Regions from separate parts of the Homo sapiens genome. Here region 1 is linked to region 2. The links come from fine-mapping of genetic effects on gene expression. Tissue or cell type: whole blood. Region 2 holds a variant in brackets; the other region holds the start of a gene. All regions are shown on one strand. Distances are between the middles of the regions.

The links. PIP is the estimated chance that this variant, and not a neighbour inherited with it, causes the effect.
Region 1: CLN8 starts here. The variant in region 2 is fine-mapped to the expression of CLN8 in whole blood (INTERVAL, PIP 0.98).

The regions. Positions count from the first base shown.
Region 1 is chr8:1,759,140-1,767,317 of GRCh38, reverse strand. It overlaps CLN8 (CLN8 transmembrane ER and ERGIC protein), which reads right to left and starts at 3,529. Exons shown (of 3, transcript NM_018941.4): 1 at 3,433-3,529. It overlaps CLN8-AS1 (CLN8 antisense RNA 1), which reads left to right and starts at 2,734. Exons shown (of 2, transcript NR_134303.1): 1 at 2,734-2,884; 2 at 4,390-5,355.
Region 2 is chr8:1,732,904-1,741,081 of GRCh38, reverse strand. No RefSeq gene overlaps it. Among named protein-coding and RNA genes, the nearest start is that of CLN8, 27 kb to the left of the region's middle. The variant A/G (reference allele first, on the strand shown) is at 3,876.

The DNA of each region.
Region 1 (8,178 bases), 26 kb before region 2:
ATGCAGAAACAGCAGATTATAAAGACCAGAATGCTTACTTCCCCTTCCAGTCCTGTAGTGAATCCCCCATTCTGATTCTTTGCTCAAACCTCCTGACTTTCTGGGTAAGCTGGTGCTGTTCTAGTCTAACTCGTTACTGTGGGTCTCTGAGTTTAGTTAATGCCAACCAGCATCCTCCAGCCAGGAGTTCACAAAGGAGGTGAACTCCTCAGCTCTCTCAGCCATGAGGGTAGAAGGCCAGTCCCAGAGGCAGGATCCAGCCCAAGCGCCCAGTCTTCCTGGAGTCCTGCAGAGCTCTGCTGTCCTTTCGTGGCATCAGCGTTGTACTGAGAACAGCTGTGGTTCACCCCAAGTCACAAGGTGGGCACCCACAGAAGTGTGGCTAGGCCTTGTTCTGTCAGGCAGCACAGAAGGGGTATGGGAAGAGCTCAGCTTCTCCTTTTGCTTCTATTTCTGCTCCTTGACCCAACCACACCCTCTCACTCTTGATACGCAAAATGGGACACAGGGGTTCCCACTGTTCCCTTGCTGTGCACCATAAGGCTCAGGCCACATGAAGGAGTCCTTAAGTGTAATGCACAGCTGGAAGTCACTGTTCCTTCCATGGGTAAAACTGGAGGCCGAATCGGCCGGGCAGGGTGGCTCACACCTGTAATCCCAGCACTTTGGGAGCCCAAGGTGGGAGGATCACGAGGTCAGGAGATCGAGACCATCCTGGCTAACATGGTGAAACCTTGTCTCTACTAAAATACAAAAAAAAAATAGCCAGGCGTGATGGCGAGCGCCTGTAGTCCCAGCTACTCGGGAGGCTGAGGCAGGAGAATGGCGGGAACCTGGAAGGCGGAACGTGCAGTGAGCTGAGATAGCGCCACTGCACTCCAGCCTGGGTGACAGAGTGAGGCTCCGTCTCAAAAAAAAAAAAAAAAACAAAAAACTGGAGGCCGAACCTAATGGACTCATCTGGTTCTTTCATTCTGGAAGGCTTCCAAGCCCTTCCACACCAGCCCCTTTCCTCTCTGCAGTAGAGGAAGTGGAGCCGGAGAATAAACAACTCCTGGAAGGCCACCATCTCTTGACGCTGCAGATCTTCATTTTCTTTGGAGAAAATGTATACAAAAAGCTTGTCTTATAAGATTCTGTGGTTTCAGCTCTTCTATTGCACTGGGCCATGAAGTTTTTTAAAAATCTGAATGCAAACACATCAGTAAGAGTGTTAGCTCTGTTGCTGCAGTGTGACCAGGAACCAGGCTCAGTGGCCACTGGAACCCTTCGACTCTGTCATGCATCTATGCGCTCCTCCGGTTTATGGGGGCTAAACTGCTATGGATACCAGCATTTTTGTTTTTCATTGAGATAATTTATCCAAACTTGGAAGTGACGTCAAAAGGGAAAAAAAAGGTTGCATGCTTTTTTCCCTGCTAACGCAAGTTCAGTGTTTTACAACCCCAACAATCACTTGACTTTCTAGGAGAAATAACTAAACTATTTACCACTGATTGTGGGTCACGCATTTTACAATCTGCAAAGCTAATTCTCCTTTCCATCAAGAAGAAAAGACAATCCCAAAGGCTGTGGTTTCAATGCACACAGGATATTCACCAATCTTATTATCTAATCTGGCAATCTTCTCTCAGCATTCCTGTTACCCACTCACTAAGAAAATCCTAGTTTTGTGTATTCTCTTTTGAACTGACATTCCTATCCTGCTGTATACTGCATTAATGACTGAAATATAACCTGACAAGAGCTATTTACATGAGAATTATACTTCTAACATTTTGAAAATTATACATTGATGGGTTGTAAAAATGTTTTCCAAAATCAACAGAAATACATGTTTAATACACAAAATTCAGAAAATATAAACAAGCATAAAAATACAAAAATAAAAATTTACAATCCTCTTACACAGCTCCAAGCACCATCACTATTTTTTGGTGCCTGCTGGGTCAATTGTTTTTCTAGATATAAACTCTTCTTTTTACATAAAAGGGGATAACAGTATACAAGCTGCTCCCCGGCCTGCTTCTCTTCTCTCAGCAACAGCTAATCCTCCTCTGCAACACGGTTGCAGGGACTCCACCATTTACCTACCCGGTGTCCTACCAGGCTTTTGCCCAGTTCCTCGTTATCAGAAGACATTGTGTATTGAACATCTCTGAGGCCACCTAGAGAACCTGTGCTCTTTGTATGGAAACTGGATGCTCAGGAAGAACTTCCTTAACAACCACAGCCTCCATGACGGCCAATCTGAAAGTGAGGCACAGAAGTGTTCAAGCTCAGTGGGGAGCTGTGGCCATCTCATATTCCCTCAATCACTCACACTTCCTGCACCATTGCTCTTTCCTCTCACAACCTTCCTGAAAAGTTGTATGTAAATAAAAATCAAAATACGGGAGTGAGGTAAGCAGAAGCTGGATAGTTACAGATTTCACACAGAGGGTAAACTGAAACAGGAGTCAGAAGCAGCCGCCTCGCGCCAGTCTTTCAGAGAAGAGTCACTTACAGCAGAATCTACACAGGCTGGGGAGCCCCTGGCTCCCCTCCCTACTGTCCACACCCAACCCCAACCTAGAGCAGCTGGCTATAGGGCCCAGAGCCCAGGCGGGTCCCACCTCCTGCTGACCTGACCCAGCGCCCGCTCTCTCCCCCGCACACTTTGGTGACCTTACCCAGCGTCCCTCCCCGCTCCTACAGGTTCTGACTGACCCAGCGTCCCTCCGCCTCCCACACCATGTTGAGCTGCACCTTGTCCCCTTCCGCCCCAGCTAACTCGGTGACCAGTGGAGGCCACACCCACGTGACACCTGCTGTCCTTGACAGCAGCTCCGACGGCACCTCTGTGGCTCTGCAGGAGCCGCCTCCCCGCCTCGTGGGCACACAGGTGAGCTGACCGTACTTGCCCAGCCGGTCTGAGGGAAGCGAGGTCAGGGGCGACGGCGCCGCCTCCGCCTCCGCCTGTCCCCTCCCTCCGTCCGGCATCCGCGCCGCTCAAGGACTCCAAAGTCAGCGTCGCGGTGAGGAGCCCCCCACGCCCAACCCGCGCAGGCAGGACCCCGGGCTGCGGGGCTCGAAAGTCCCCCACAAGCTGCTGTCCGGGAACCGCACGGCCCGGGGTGCCGCACGCCCACCGGAAGGCAGGGCTGGGACCGCGGACGCCAGGAGCCACCCCGGCCCCTCACCCGGGCTCCCCCTCACGTGGGCTCCCGCGCGCCCATCTGGGTTCCCCCTCAGCTGAGTTCCCGGCCCCTCACCTGGGATCCCCGGTCCCCTCACCCGGGCTTCCCAGCCCCCTCGCCTGGGCTCCACGCGCGCTCACCTGGGCTGCCCCTCACCTGGGTTCCCGGCCCCTAACCCGGGCACCCCGCGCGCTCACCTGGGCTGCCCCTCACCTGGGTTCCCGGCCCTCACCCGGGCTCCCTGAGCGCTCACCTGGGCTGCCACTCAGCCGGGCTCCCTGCGCTTGGCGCCGCCCCGCCCCTGCAGGACTCCCGGCAGTCACTGACCTCATTGCCGCCCAGTCACGACTGGCCGGCCTCAAACACCGCCCGCGCACGCGCGTTCGCACGCGCGTGCGCACGCGTTCTGCCCCCCTGGGGGCGTCGCTACGAGAGGCCCCGCCTAGGCGCTACGACGGCGGCGGGCGCGGGAGGGGCGGGGCGGCGGGCGCGGGAGGGGCGCGGCGGGGGGCGGGGCGCGGCGCGGGGGGCGGGGCGCGGCGGGGGGCGGGGCGCGGCGGGGGGCGGGGCGCGGCGGGGGGCGGGGCGCGGCGGGGGGCGGGGCGCGGCGGGGGGCGGGGCGCGGCGGGGGGCGGGGCGCGGCGGGGGGCGGGGCGCGGCGGGGGGCGGGGCGCGGCGGGGGGCGGGGCGCGGCGGGGGGCGGGGCGCGGCGGGGGGCGGGGCGCGGCGGGGGGCGGGGCGCGGCGCGGCGGGCGCTGTGGGGCGGCGGGGTGGACGCGCTGAACCACGGCCGGCGGGAGGGGCGGGGCCGGGCTGAACCATGGCGGGCGGCGGCATGGGGGCGGTGGGGCTCCGCGGGCAGCCTGGTTGCGCTGCACCCGGACGGGGCCGAGGGGACCTGAAAGCTGCGGCAGAGCCTGACCGCGCCGTTCTCCAGAAGAGCCCCGGCCGCGGCTGAGTCGCGCTCCGGGTGTGGACGGAGCCGGAGCCTCCCCGGGGCTCGGTGAGGACACAGGGCCCAAGCCCCGGACCTTCAAGTCTTGACCGAGCGCATCCCCGGCCCTTCTGCGCCCACACCTGAGTTTTTGTCTGTAGGAGTTTCCGCAGTTTGCTAAGGTTGTTATTCGAGTTACTTATGTTTCTTCTCTCTAAGGTTGTTATTCGAGTTACTTATGTTTCTTCTGTCTAATGTGTTTTGTTCCCTCTTTAGAATCGACATCTAGAGGAGTACTCACCACTTAATTGATGATCAATACACGTTCCTTGAAAGAACCGATAGCATGCGATCGATACAGAGCATCTGCACTGGGATTGTCCGCCCCGCCTGTCAGGGAGGCCTCGGGGGCTAATGGAGCTGAGGGTATAGTCGGCCTTGGACCCTCGCTTTTTTCCTTTCCTGTACTATGAAGATAACTGCCTTATCTCCCCCTCAGGACTGTTTTGGGGATTAAATAGGACGTTTAAATTACCAACGCTCTTTGAAATAAACATTTCAAAATTATTATAACCCTTTAGTACATGTGGGAAAACGTTGACATTCATGTTCAAGTTTATTTTTCTGCTGGCTCATTTAGGTTTGTTGAAGCCTTGAGTCCCTAGGATTGTCTAAGAACATGGGTAAATGTGTGTGGAGGCCTCCCTGGAGGCCAGAGAACTGCCAGCAGCCTTCATGATGTTAGGGGAACAGGAACCTAGGAGAGCCAGGGTGACATCGTTTTAAAATCAACAACCCATCTTGGCGGGCGCGGTGGCTCAAGCCTGTAATCCCAGCAGTTTGGGAGAAAAAAATTAGCCGGGTGTGGTGGTGGGCACCTGTAATCTCAGCTACTCAGGAGGCTGAAGCAGAATTGCTTGAACCCAGGAGGCAGAGGTTGCAGTGAGCTGAGATCACGCCATGGCACTCTAGCCTGGGCAACAAGAATGAAACTCTGTCTCAAAAAAATAAAAATAAAATAAAATAAACTCCATCTTAAAACCAGTGAAACCACCATTGCAAAATTATAACTGAGACAGTGAGAGATCTGACCTAACCAACTCCATCCTACTTTTAACCTCCAAACTGTCCTTGTTCATTCCTGGGTGTAGGCCAAACTAACTTTGGAAGAAACTTAGTTTATGGTTTCCCGAAACAAATCCTTTTCTTGTCTGGAGACTAGACTGCCTTTGTAGGACTAACAAATTAGCCACAAGATTAGAAATTATGGTTTAGAATTCATGCAGCTGGAGATTACAAGATTCTGACCCTCCCTAAATTGCTCCTGGGGATAACATCACTATTGAAAAACCTAACAACAGTGCTTGAGATATTTTGCAGACCTTGCACTTGCTGAATTAGCTGGGACCATCCAGATGGATAAACTGGCTCATCTGATCTTGTGGCCCGCACTCAGCAACCGGCTCAGGCCAAGAGGACAGCTTTGATCCATACGATTTCATCTCTGATCTGACCCCTCAGTGCTCCCAGCTTACTGGCCCCCTACCTACCAAATTATCCTTAAAAACTCTGAACTCCAGGGCTGGGCACGGTGGCTCACACCTGTAATCCCAGGACTCTGGGAGGCCGAGGCAGGCGGATCACTTGAGGTCAGAAGTTCAAGACCAGCCTGGCCAACATGGCAAAACCCCGTCTCTACTAAAAATACAAAAATTAGCCAGGCGTGGTGGTGCACGCCTGTAATGCCAACTACTTGGGAGCCTGAGGCAGGAGAATTGCTTGAACCCTGAAGGCGGAGGTTGCAGTGTGCTGAAATCGCACCACTGCACTCCAGCCTGGGCAACAGAGCAAGACTCCATCTCAAAAACAACAGCAAAAACTCTGAACTCCGAATTCTTGGGGAAATTGATTTGAGTAATAATAAAACTCTGGTCTCCCGCACAGCCAGCTCTGTGTGGATTATTCTTTCTCTATGCAGTTCACCTGTTTGGATAAATCAGCTCTGTGTAGGCAACATGAACCTGATTGGCAGTTACAGTAGCCTGTAATCCCAGCTACGTGGGAGGCTGAGGCAGGAGAATTGCCTGAACCTGGGAGGCGGAGGTTGCAGTGAGCCGAGATCATGCCACTGCACTCCAGCCTGGGCAACAGAGCAAGACTCCATCTCAAAAAAAAAAAAAAAAAAAAAAAAAGATGGCTATAGTCATGCTTAGATGTAGTTACGCACTGAAATGCCAAGGATAACGTTATTTACATCCACCAAGTACTAGATCTTGTCACACTGCCAGCCCACCTGCACTTACACGTAGCTTGGCTTTTACATTGATACAAGATGCCTTTGAAACAAAGATGGCACATTCTTCTTCCTGCTTTCCGCGGGCTCCCCACTCTGTATCAGAGCAGCTGTCTCTCACTGCACTCTGCGACTGCCTTGAGTTCCTCCCTGCGCAAGATCCGAGAACTCTCTCTTAGGGTCTGGACTGGACCCCTTTCTCCATCAGCACTGGGTTCCTTAGATTCCTACTAACAGCATGCTGAGGCCTGTCTTAACAAAGAATGAAGTGAGGCTTAGAAAGATGGAACCATAACTTGCTCAGTCACGTGGCTAGTAAGCTCTTCAGCTTGAATTTAAACATTCCAGGACTGTGTCTTTCCACTCGGCCATCTTTAAAGCAGAGTGATAAAATAGTTTTGTTTTCTAAAAAACCATCACAGGCATAACTGATCACAGGTATAACCAGTATCCATGCGGGGTGTGGAACACTGAATGAAACCCGGGCGGATTCCCAGCTTGCTCCGTCTCAGCTTGGGCACTGCTGTTTACAGCCTGTGTACTCCCCTCCCGCCCTGCCACCCACAAGTGTCTCACCTCCTTCCTCGACAGATCGAATGACACAACAAACATTTATCTTGGGTGCACAGCGTGTCAGGCGTCAGGCTAAGCACTTTGATAAACTGGTTCTTTCAAACATCACAGGTGTCTGACGCAGGCACCATTATCCACGTCATAGAAAAAAAACAGTGTTCAGTGAGCCTGAGGTTAGCAATGTGTGCACCTCCACACACTGCTAAATGACAAAGCTGAATTTTGAAGTACGATGCCATGAGGTGTCTGGAGTAGACAACCAAAATGACTTAATTGAGGTGTCAGGGGACTGTCTTACTTTCTGGTCACACAAGCAATATACGCTCATTGTGAGGTTTGGTTGTTCCATTACAAAAAAGACTGTTTTAAAAGCCATTAGCGGAGGGATGGGAGGAGTTCTCTTCTGCCTGTTTCTTCCTCCTAAACAGCAAAATGACGGTGTCCTCAAAGGGATGTATAATGAGCGAGAGGCGAAAAAGAACGTCTGTGATTTTAAATCCAGTGTCCTTCACCAGTGAGCAATAGTAGTTCTGTGAGTGGGAGAGCAGGACCGCGGTGCTTGCAAACAACACTTTAAAACACTGGAACCCAAGTTCAGGATCTGCTGACAGCACATCTGCAGGAAGCATGAGGGTCTCTGGACTCCCGCAGATCAGCTGCTCAGCTTCTCAGCCTCAATGTGGCAAAGACTCTACCTGACCTAACTCCAGGCAGGGTCCTCGAAGCCCTCAAGGCTCTGACCTGGACCCCTGTCCCCTTTCGTCCAAAAGAATCCTGCTGGGTCAATGCAGTGACAGTTCCCCGCCCCTGATATCATACTCCTCATCCCTCACCCTCGGTATCTTATCACCTGGCCTGCCTGTGGCACGAATCCTACCAAGTGGTTCTAGCAAGAACCCCCCTGGCCTGATGTAGCCTCTTCATAGTTTTCCGTCCGTTCTCACCCTCTCCGTGGCTGTACATTCCCGTTTTTCTTCTTACACTCAGAGTTGAGCCTAGTCCCACTGCAGTGGCCCCTGCACCTATCGCGATTCCTTTGAGACTGTAAAACAAAAATAAAATTCTAGTCCCCCGCCAACCCCGTTAGCCACGAGCTTTCCAAAGTAAACCTTAGAGACTAGTTCAGACCGTGATGGGAAGTGGGGGTGGGACAGGCTCCTTATACCCGCCTTCCGTTGAAATCCAGGCACAGCTGACCT
Region 2 (8,178 bases):
TTTCACTCATTGAATGATCTTAAACATTCATGATAGAATGATCTATCATGTCATAAAAATGACATGATAATTATTTTTATCTCTTTGTGGACTGTTTATTTTCTGTCCTGCCCTTCCCACCTCACAAGAATGGGAAGCCCCATGGTGGGCTGGGACATCATCTGTCTTATTCACACGTGATGTTAAAAGAGATTGTTTTCTTCCTAACGGTGATGAAGTTACACTGCACAGAGGATCTTCAGGGCAGTGAAGCTACTCTGCATGGCACTGTCATGGTGGATAAGAGTCAGTGTACATCTGTGCAGACCCAGAGGATGAACAACACCTAGAGCGAGCCCTCGTGTAAACCACGGACTCCAGGCAATGAAGACGTGTCCATGTGGGTTCACCAATGGTAACAAATGCACCACACTTGCTGGTGGGGGGTGGCTATGCGTGCAGGGGAGAGGGGACAGGCAGCGAATGGCAGGTGTCTGTACCTTCTGTGCATTTTACTGTGAGCCAAAAACTGCTCTAAAAAAATTGTCTACTTTTAAGTTCTGATGGGTTCTCTGGCTTCAGGGAGTTGCCATTTTGGATCCTGAAGAATAAAGAGATAGGCTCATTTGCATGAGGTAGGCAGAGTCAAGTTGGAGGTTGAACTACGTGCTGGGACTGAGGCCATCAGACTCTGGAGGGAGGAGGGGAGCATAGCTGCTGTCTTGCTGACAGCTTCATGGGGAAGCTGGGGTCTGAGTTAGGATGAGTGTCTTAGTCCATTTGTTTTGCTATCAAGGACTACCTGAAGCTGAGTAATTTATAAAGAAAAGAGGTGTGTTTGGCTCACCTCTCTGCAGCCTTCACAGGGAGCATGGTGCCAGCATCTGCGACTGGTGAGGCCTCCGAAATATTAGAAATTGGCCGGGCGCAGTGGCTCATGCCTGTAATCCTAGCACTTTGGGAGGTTGAGGGGGGCGGATCACCTGAGGTCAGGAGATCGAGACCAGCCTTCCCAACATTGGTGAAACCCCGCCTCTATTAAAAATACAAAAATTAGCTGGGCGTAATGGCAGGCACATGTAATCCCAGCTACTCGGGAGGCTGAGGCAGGAGAATCGCTTGAACCCAGAAGGCAGAGGTTGCAGTGATCCAAGATCACACCACTGCACTCCAGCTTGGGTGACAGAACTAGACTCCGTCTCAAAAAAAAAAAAAAAATGTGAGAAATCATTCTGCTCGTGGCGTCATGGCGGAATGGGAAGCGGAGCAGGCATCACATGCCAAGAGGAAAAAAGCCATAAAGAGGGACAGAGAGAGAGGAAAGGAGCTGCCAGGCTCTTTTTAACAATCAGATCTCGCGAGAGCTAATGAAATGAGACAAATAGAGTGAGGATGGCACCAAGACATTTATGTAGGGGCCACACCAGTGACCAGACACCTCCCACCACAACAATGACCAGACACCTCCCACCACACCAGTGACCACACACCTCCCACCACACCAGTGACCACACACCTCCCACCACACCGGTGACCAGACACCTCCCACCACACCGGTGACCAGACACCTCCTACCACAATGACCAGACACCTCCCACCACACCAGTGACCCAGACACCTCCCATCACACCAGTGACCCAGACGCCTCCCACCACACCAGTGACCAGACACCTCCCACTAGGCCGGCACCAACACTGGCGATCCAATGTCAGCCTGAGGTTTTGGGGGTGTCAAACATCCAAACGATATCACTGGGGTATGTCTGGGGAGGCAGGATGATGGCAGAAGGCCTCGAGACAGGAAGACCTTGCCTTGGGTCCGAAGCCTGTGCACAACCATCAGGAAACTCATCTGTTTCTGCTGGAGTTTAACTTGACTTTGATTGGTTATTAAAAACCATCCTGTAATCCCAGCAGTTTGGGAGGCTGAGGTGGGCAGATCACAAGGTCAGGAGTTCGAGACCAGCCTGGCCAACATGGTGAAACCCGGTCTCTACTAAAAATAGAAAAAATAGCTGGGTGTGGTGGCGGGTGCCTGTAATCCCAGCTACTCGGGAGGCTGAGGCAGGAGAATTGCTTGAACTCAGGAGGTGGATGTTGCAGTGAGCTGAGATTGCACCACTGCACTCCAGCCTGGGTGACAGAGCAAGACTCCGTCTCAGAAAAAAAAAAAAAATCATTGGGCCGGGCATGGTGGCTCACTCCTGTAATCCCATCACTCTGGGAGGCCGAGGCAGGTGGATCACCTAAGGTCAGGAGTTCAAGACTGGCATGGCCAACACAGTGAAAACCTATCTCTACTAAAAATACAAAAATTAGCTGGGCATGGTGGTGGGCGCCTATAGTCCCAGCTCCTCAAGAGGCCGAGGTGGGAGAATCACTTGAACCCCAGAGGCAGAGGTTGCAGTGAGCCAACATCGCGCCACTGCACTCCAGCCCGGGTGACAGATTGAGACTCTGTCTCAAAAATAAATAAATAAATAAAATAAATAAATAAATAAAAATAATCATTGGTTCTCACCTCCTTTATGATTCTTTTGCCCCATTCTCTCTTCTCTTCTGGGGCTGTGTGTGCACAGAGGACCTGCTCCCCCGTCCTGAGCGCCCTGGTCTCTTGTGCCCCCTGCCCATTTCCCTCCTCCGTTCTCCACCTGTCCTGGCTGTGCAAATGCTTCGGAGGACTCGCCCACTTTTCCCGTCCCCTCCTTTGCTGCCTACAGTCCACGTTAGAGTTCTTATTTTCCGTATCACATTTCACATTTCTAAAACTTCTACTTGATTCTTTTATTATTATAATTTTCACTTTTCTGGTGAAATTCTCCATCGGCTCACTTCAGTACTTGGATGGAGTAACCCCATGTTTTTTAGAGGACGCATCTCATAACTCCAGCCCCTGAAATTCCCGCGATCTCTTCCTATTGCCTGTTTTTCTTGGCTGTCGGTAATTTCTTTCTTGTCTTATCTCTGTCAGGTAAGTTTTGGTTGAATGTTGCTGTTGCCTATTAAAGGTTGTAGAAATGATTTGAGGATCTGGATGTATTATCTTCAGGAAGCAATTTCTGTTACTCATGGCAGGCATGTGGGTGGGGACAAAAAATCTCACTCCAGTCAGGGTTTGTGCTGTTTGGGGGCTGAGTTTCAGGGGTTTTTCCTCCCCTAAACTTACTACTATATCAGATAGTGAATATGTTTCGTGTTTAGAATTCTAAATTAGAGGTTATTTCCTATTGCCCAGCTCAACCTGGGTAGAGAAATGTGAGCCCAAAGCTAAACATTCCAGCTTTCTCATCCCAGCATTCACAACCACAACAATGTTTGGCTGTCGGAGTCCCAGGTGAGAGGGGTGAGCCAGGCAGGCTTGGTTTTCAAGTAAAGGGGATTTTCATGGGGATAGGGCACTGGGGGCAGAGGAGGGAGTCTGTGGGGGTAGCAGGAGCTCTGGGAGACAGCAAGGCTCCCACAGGGGAGGAGGGGTCATTGTATTTGAGCCCAGCACAATTCCTTACAAGTGATTTTTTTTTTTCAAGAACAAGCCAATTGATATAGTTGGATGTGTGTCCCCTCCAAATCTCCTGTGGAAATGTGACGCCCGGTGTTGGAGGTGGGCCTGGTGGGAGGTGACTGTGTTGTGGGGGCGGATCCTTCCTGAATGGCTTGGTGCCTTCCTGCTGTCTCCAGTGAGTTCACTGGAAATCTGGCTGTTTAAAGAGCCTGGCGCCTCTTGGCCGGGCGCGGTGGCTCACGCCTGTAATCCCAGCACTTTGGGGGCCGAGGCGGGTGGATCACAAGGTCAGGAGATCAGGACCATCCTGGCTAACACGGTGAAACCCCGTCTCTACTAAAAAATACAGAAAATTAGCCGGGCGCGGTGGCGGGCGCCTGTAGTCCCAGCTACTC[A/G]GGAGGCTGAGGCAGGAGAATGGCGTGAACCCGGGAGGCGGAGCTTGCAGTGAGCTGAGATCGCGCCACTGCACTCCAGCCTGGGCGACACAGCCAGACTCTGTCTCAAAAAAAAAAGAGCCTGGCACCTCCTTCTCTCTCTTGCTCCCTCTCTTGCCACCTGACACACCTGCTCCCCCTTCACCTTCCGCCAGGAGAAAAATCTTCCTGAGGCCTCCCCAGAAGCAGATGCTGGAACAACCCGCAGAACCATGAGCCACATATACCTGTTTCTTCATATACTATCCAGCCTCAGGTGTTCCTTATAGCAACGCAAGACAGACGAATACACCAGCCACATTAAGGTGGGGAATGGTTCTTGCTAATCTATCTTGAGACCAAGCATGTGTTAGGGTTAAATAGGAAATAGGTGTTAAAGTTTTCTGATGTTGTGCACGACACCTAATGAAATTGGCTTTCTTCCTCCCCATCTCCCTCCCTTTCTCCCGTCCTTGTCTCTCTGTCTTTGTCTTTGTCTCTCTGTTGGTCTCTCTCTTTCCTTCCTCTCTTGGTTCCCTGGTGTGCAGAATGACTAAGAAGGGGAAACACACAAGTGCACTCAATACTTTTTTTTTTGAGACACGGTCTGGCTCTGTCGCCCAGGCTGCAGTGCGCTGGTGTGACCTTGGCTCACTGCAACCTCTACCTCCTGGGCTCAAGCCATCCTCCCACCTCAGCCTCCAGAGTAGCTGGGACTACAGACACATGCCACCACGTCTGGATAATTTTTGTCTTTTTTTTTGTAGAGATGGGTTTTCACCATTGTCTCGTCTGGTCTTGAACGCCTGAGCTCAAGCCATTCGCCTGCCTCGGCCTCTCAAAGTGCTGGGATTACAGGCATAAGCCACCATGCCTGGCCTCAAAAGAATTAAAACGGTTAATGAGTTAAAACAAGATTAAGTCTGTACATTATATAATGTAGAAGCTTCTGTGGAAAACTCCCCAGCCCTATGTGGACGACATCACATCTGATTTATCCTTGTGGTCTACACCGCTGGGTGCTCAGCCTTCTCCTGAGAGATGCTGTGAAACTTCTCTACCACCTGGAACAGGAGAAGGGAGGCCCATGTGGGGGCAGAGACCTCTGTCCAGAGTCCAGTGGCAGCTGGTAAGGATTTTTCATGCAAGGAATAGCTTAGAAGAGACAACAGTTATTGGCTGATTTTGATGAAGGATTAAAATTAAAATATCTCAGCCACTTCCTACTCAATGTATCCTATACATTTTCTTGTTAATCTAACATGCAGTTTACTTTCTGGGTGATAGCTCATTAGTTCAGAGGAGAATTGCTAGTTATGGGAGATACTACTTCCTGTTGAGTAGGGCAACTAGCTCTGCGATAGCTTTTATTGGACTGCTCATATTTTGAAATACAATGTTGTTTTACTAATCGTTGTTTATTCAACATCCTTGAACACTGGCTTTATGTGAGATAAACTTAAGAATCAGGGTTTAATCATAGTTTTCTTAGTTGTCAATTCCAATTCAAGCTGAGTCCAGGAAGAGGCTCCGCTGCTTCCAAATGCTAGCACACTGCCCTCTTGTGGGAGACCCTGAACACTGCAGAGCTTTACACTTCGAATCTCATCTAGTGAATCTAATTTCATTTCCCCGAAGCCAAACATATCCTTAGGCAGCAAATATAAAATATGTTTTACTTTACAAAGTCTGTTAGCCCTTCATAGCTCCTTCGTAATGCATAAATCTGTAAAACGTTTGCTTGGTGTCAATTACTTAATTCAAATAAGGAATTCCTGTACAATCTCTTCATGGTTATTATGGTGAAAGCTGGTTGGTGCTCTAGAACTGAATATGTGCAGAGAATTGTTAAACTCAAAAGCCAGTTTCCCATCTCACCTCTGGAAGCCTCAATTCGTCATGTTTCAAATGGAGATGGCCTGAGGGCATTTCATAGGGAAATGGCTGGATCGGTTTAGGAGCCCAAACGCTGCTAGAATTTTGTTTTTTCTGGAATGCCTTATGAAATCGCCTTCTTCTTTGATACAGTTAAAATAGGCTGTTATTAGAGCTAAACGTTTAAAATATTTCTACTTTTCCCTTTAAAAATTTTTTTTTAAATTTATTATTTTTTGAGATGGAGTCTTGCTCTGTCGCCCAGGCTGGAGTGCAGTGGTGCAGTCTTGGCTCACTGCAACCTCCGCCTCCCAGGTTCAAGCGATTCTCATGCCTCAGCCTCCTGAGAAGCTGGGATTACAGGCACCTGTCACCATACCTGGCTAATTTTTGTATTTCTAGTAGAGACAGGGTTTCACCATGTTGACCAGGCTGGTCTTGAACTCCTGACCTCAAGTGATCCACCCACCTTGGCCTCGCAAAGTGCTGGGATTACAGGCATGAGCCACTGCGCCCGGTCCCCTTTTCTTTTTTTAAAAAACAAATTACAGGTCACACGTCCTTAGTGAGCACACACAATCACTTTGCAAGGCTAGGCCTGGAGAATTCAGGGAGCTAGAGAAGGTCCAAGGTTCATTGGGAATTAGACTGTGGGTGTTAATTTAAGAAAGGACCTGCAAATCACAGGTGCTGTCCATAGTCCTGGAGTGAGGCAGGCACTCCTGTCTGGACTGGCCAGCCGGTGCACCAAGGCCTGACCTTCCTGCTCCCGGGCTCAGATCACAGCGGCAGCCCCACGACGACGCGGCAGCAGGTGCCAGCTGTAGGTGGAGGCAGGGAGGGTGGTTTGGAGCTGTGGGGTGGACTGGGGTTCGAAACAGAAAACGGCAGTGTCAAGATGGGGGTAAGAAAATGCCACCTGGACTTCTCAGTACAGGCATCTTATTATCTTTGTGGCTTCAGAACAGAATGTTACTGGATAGAGTTGTCCAGTTTCTTGGCGTGTTGAACGAAGAACTGAACAAAATGCACAAAGTAACAAAAGAACAAAACAACAGAAGAACAGAGGGAGTAACCAAGGCACAGATCTATTGAAGAAGCAAAAGCACAATTCACAAAGTGGGATGGGCTTGAGCAAGCGACTCAAGAGCCTCTCTAATTAGGTTTTTTGTTGTTGTTGTTTTGTTTTTTTGAGACAGGGTCTCACTCTGTTGCCCAGGCTGGAGTGCAGTGGTGCGATCTCAGCTCACTGCAACCTCTGCCTCCGGGGTTCAAGTGATTCTTGTGCCTCAGCCTCTTGAGTAGCTGGGATTACAGGCACCTGTCACCACGCCTGGCTTATTTCTGTATTTTTAGCAGAGATGGGGTTTCACCATGTTGGCCAGGCTGGTCTCGAACTCTTGGACTCAAGCGACCCACCCACCTTGTGCTGGGATTACAGGTGTGAGCCACCGCGCCTGGCCCAATTAGGATTTTTATAAAGCCAAAAGAACTTGGCAATACCCCTAGGTGCCCTTTAGCGGCCTCCAGTTGGTTATTCCCTATGAAGGATGGACCTGTGACCAATCAGATGCTGAAGTGGAGAAGGCCGTGGTCAATCAGAGGCTGAAGTGGAGGTTTCTGTCTTCTTATCACAGGAGAGAGGCTGTGGCCTGTGTACCGCCGGATCCTGCCTGGAACTGACTGCACCTGCTGTTATTTGCTAAAGCCCCAGCCCGGGGCTGCCCTAATTCCCTATTCTCCTCACGAAGCCCATAGCTGTTGGGAAAGACAGTCCCAGGGTCCTTCCCACGTGTAAGTGTCTTCCTCAGGCGTGTCCAGAGCACTGTGGCTGGATTGCTCTTTCCCGGACCATCTCTCAGGGCTGTGCGTGCAGGGAGCCATCCTCGAGGGAGGAGGAAATGTGTCCCCCGCGGACAAGGAGCAGGCATCGACTGTCTGCTATAGAACAGGGTCCCAGCGTCCGTGTGCCTCGGCCGGGACACAGAGCCAGCGTGCACCCGGCACCGAGCTGAGCTGTTCCACGCGGCCCTGTGGGATGTGGGGCCAAGGGAACCACAGACTCCTGCCCGTGCTGTCTTCTGCGCAGTGAGGAATAAAACCCTGGTCTCTGATCGACGCGTCTCCCGACTTCTAGCAGCGTCAATGAAATAGCAAAAGGCAACTTATTAGCTTGTAAGTAAAGTGAAAGAAAATCCGTGACCTTGTAGTTCAATGTAAGTTCAGGGCTGATAATTTAATTTTAAATTTTTTCCACATGGAAATTGCTTTAATGAGCTTTTACGTCCCCTGCTGATAAAACAATTAGAAAAGGGAAAAGAGTTTTACAGTGCTAACAGATACAATTTCACACCACTGAATTAGGTATTAGAAATGGTGAAGTAGACTCTCCGTATGTCCGTAGGGTCTG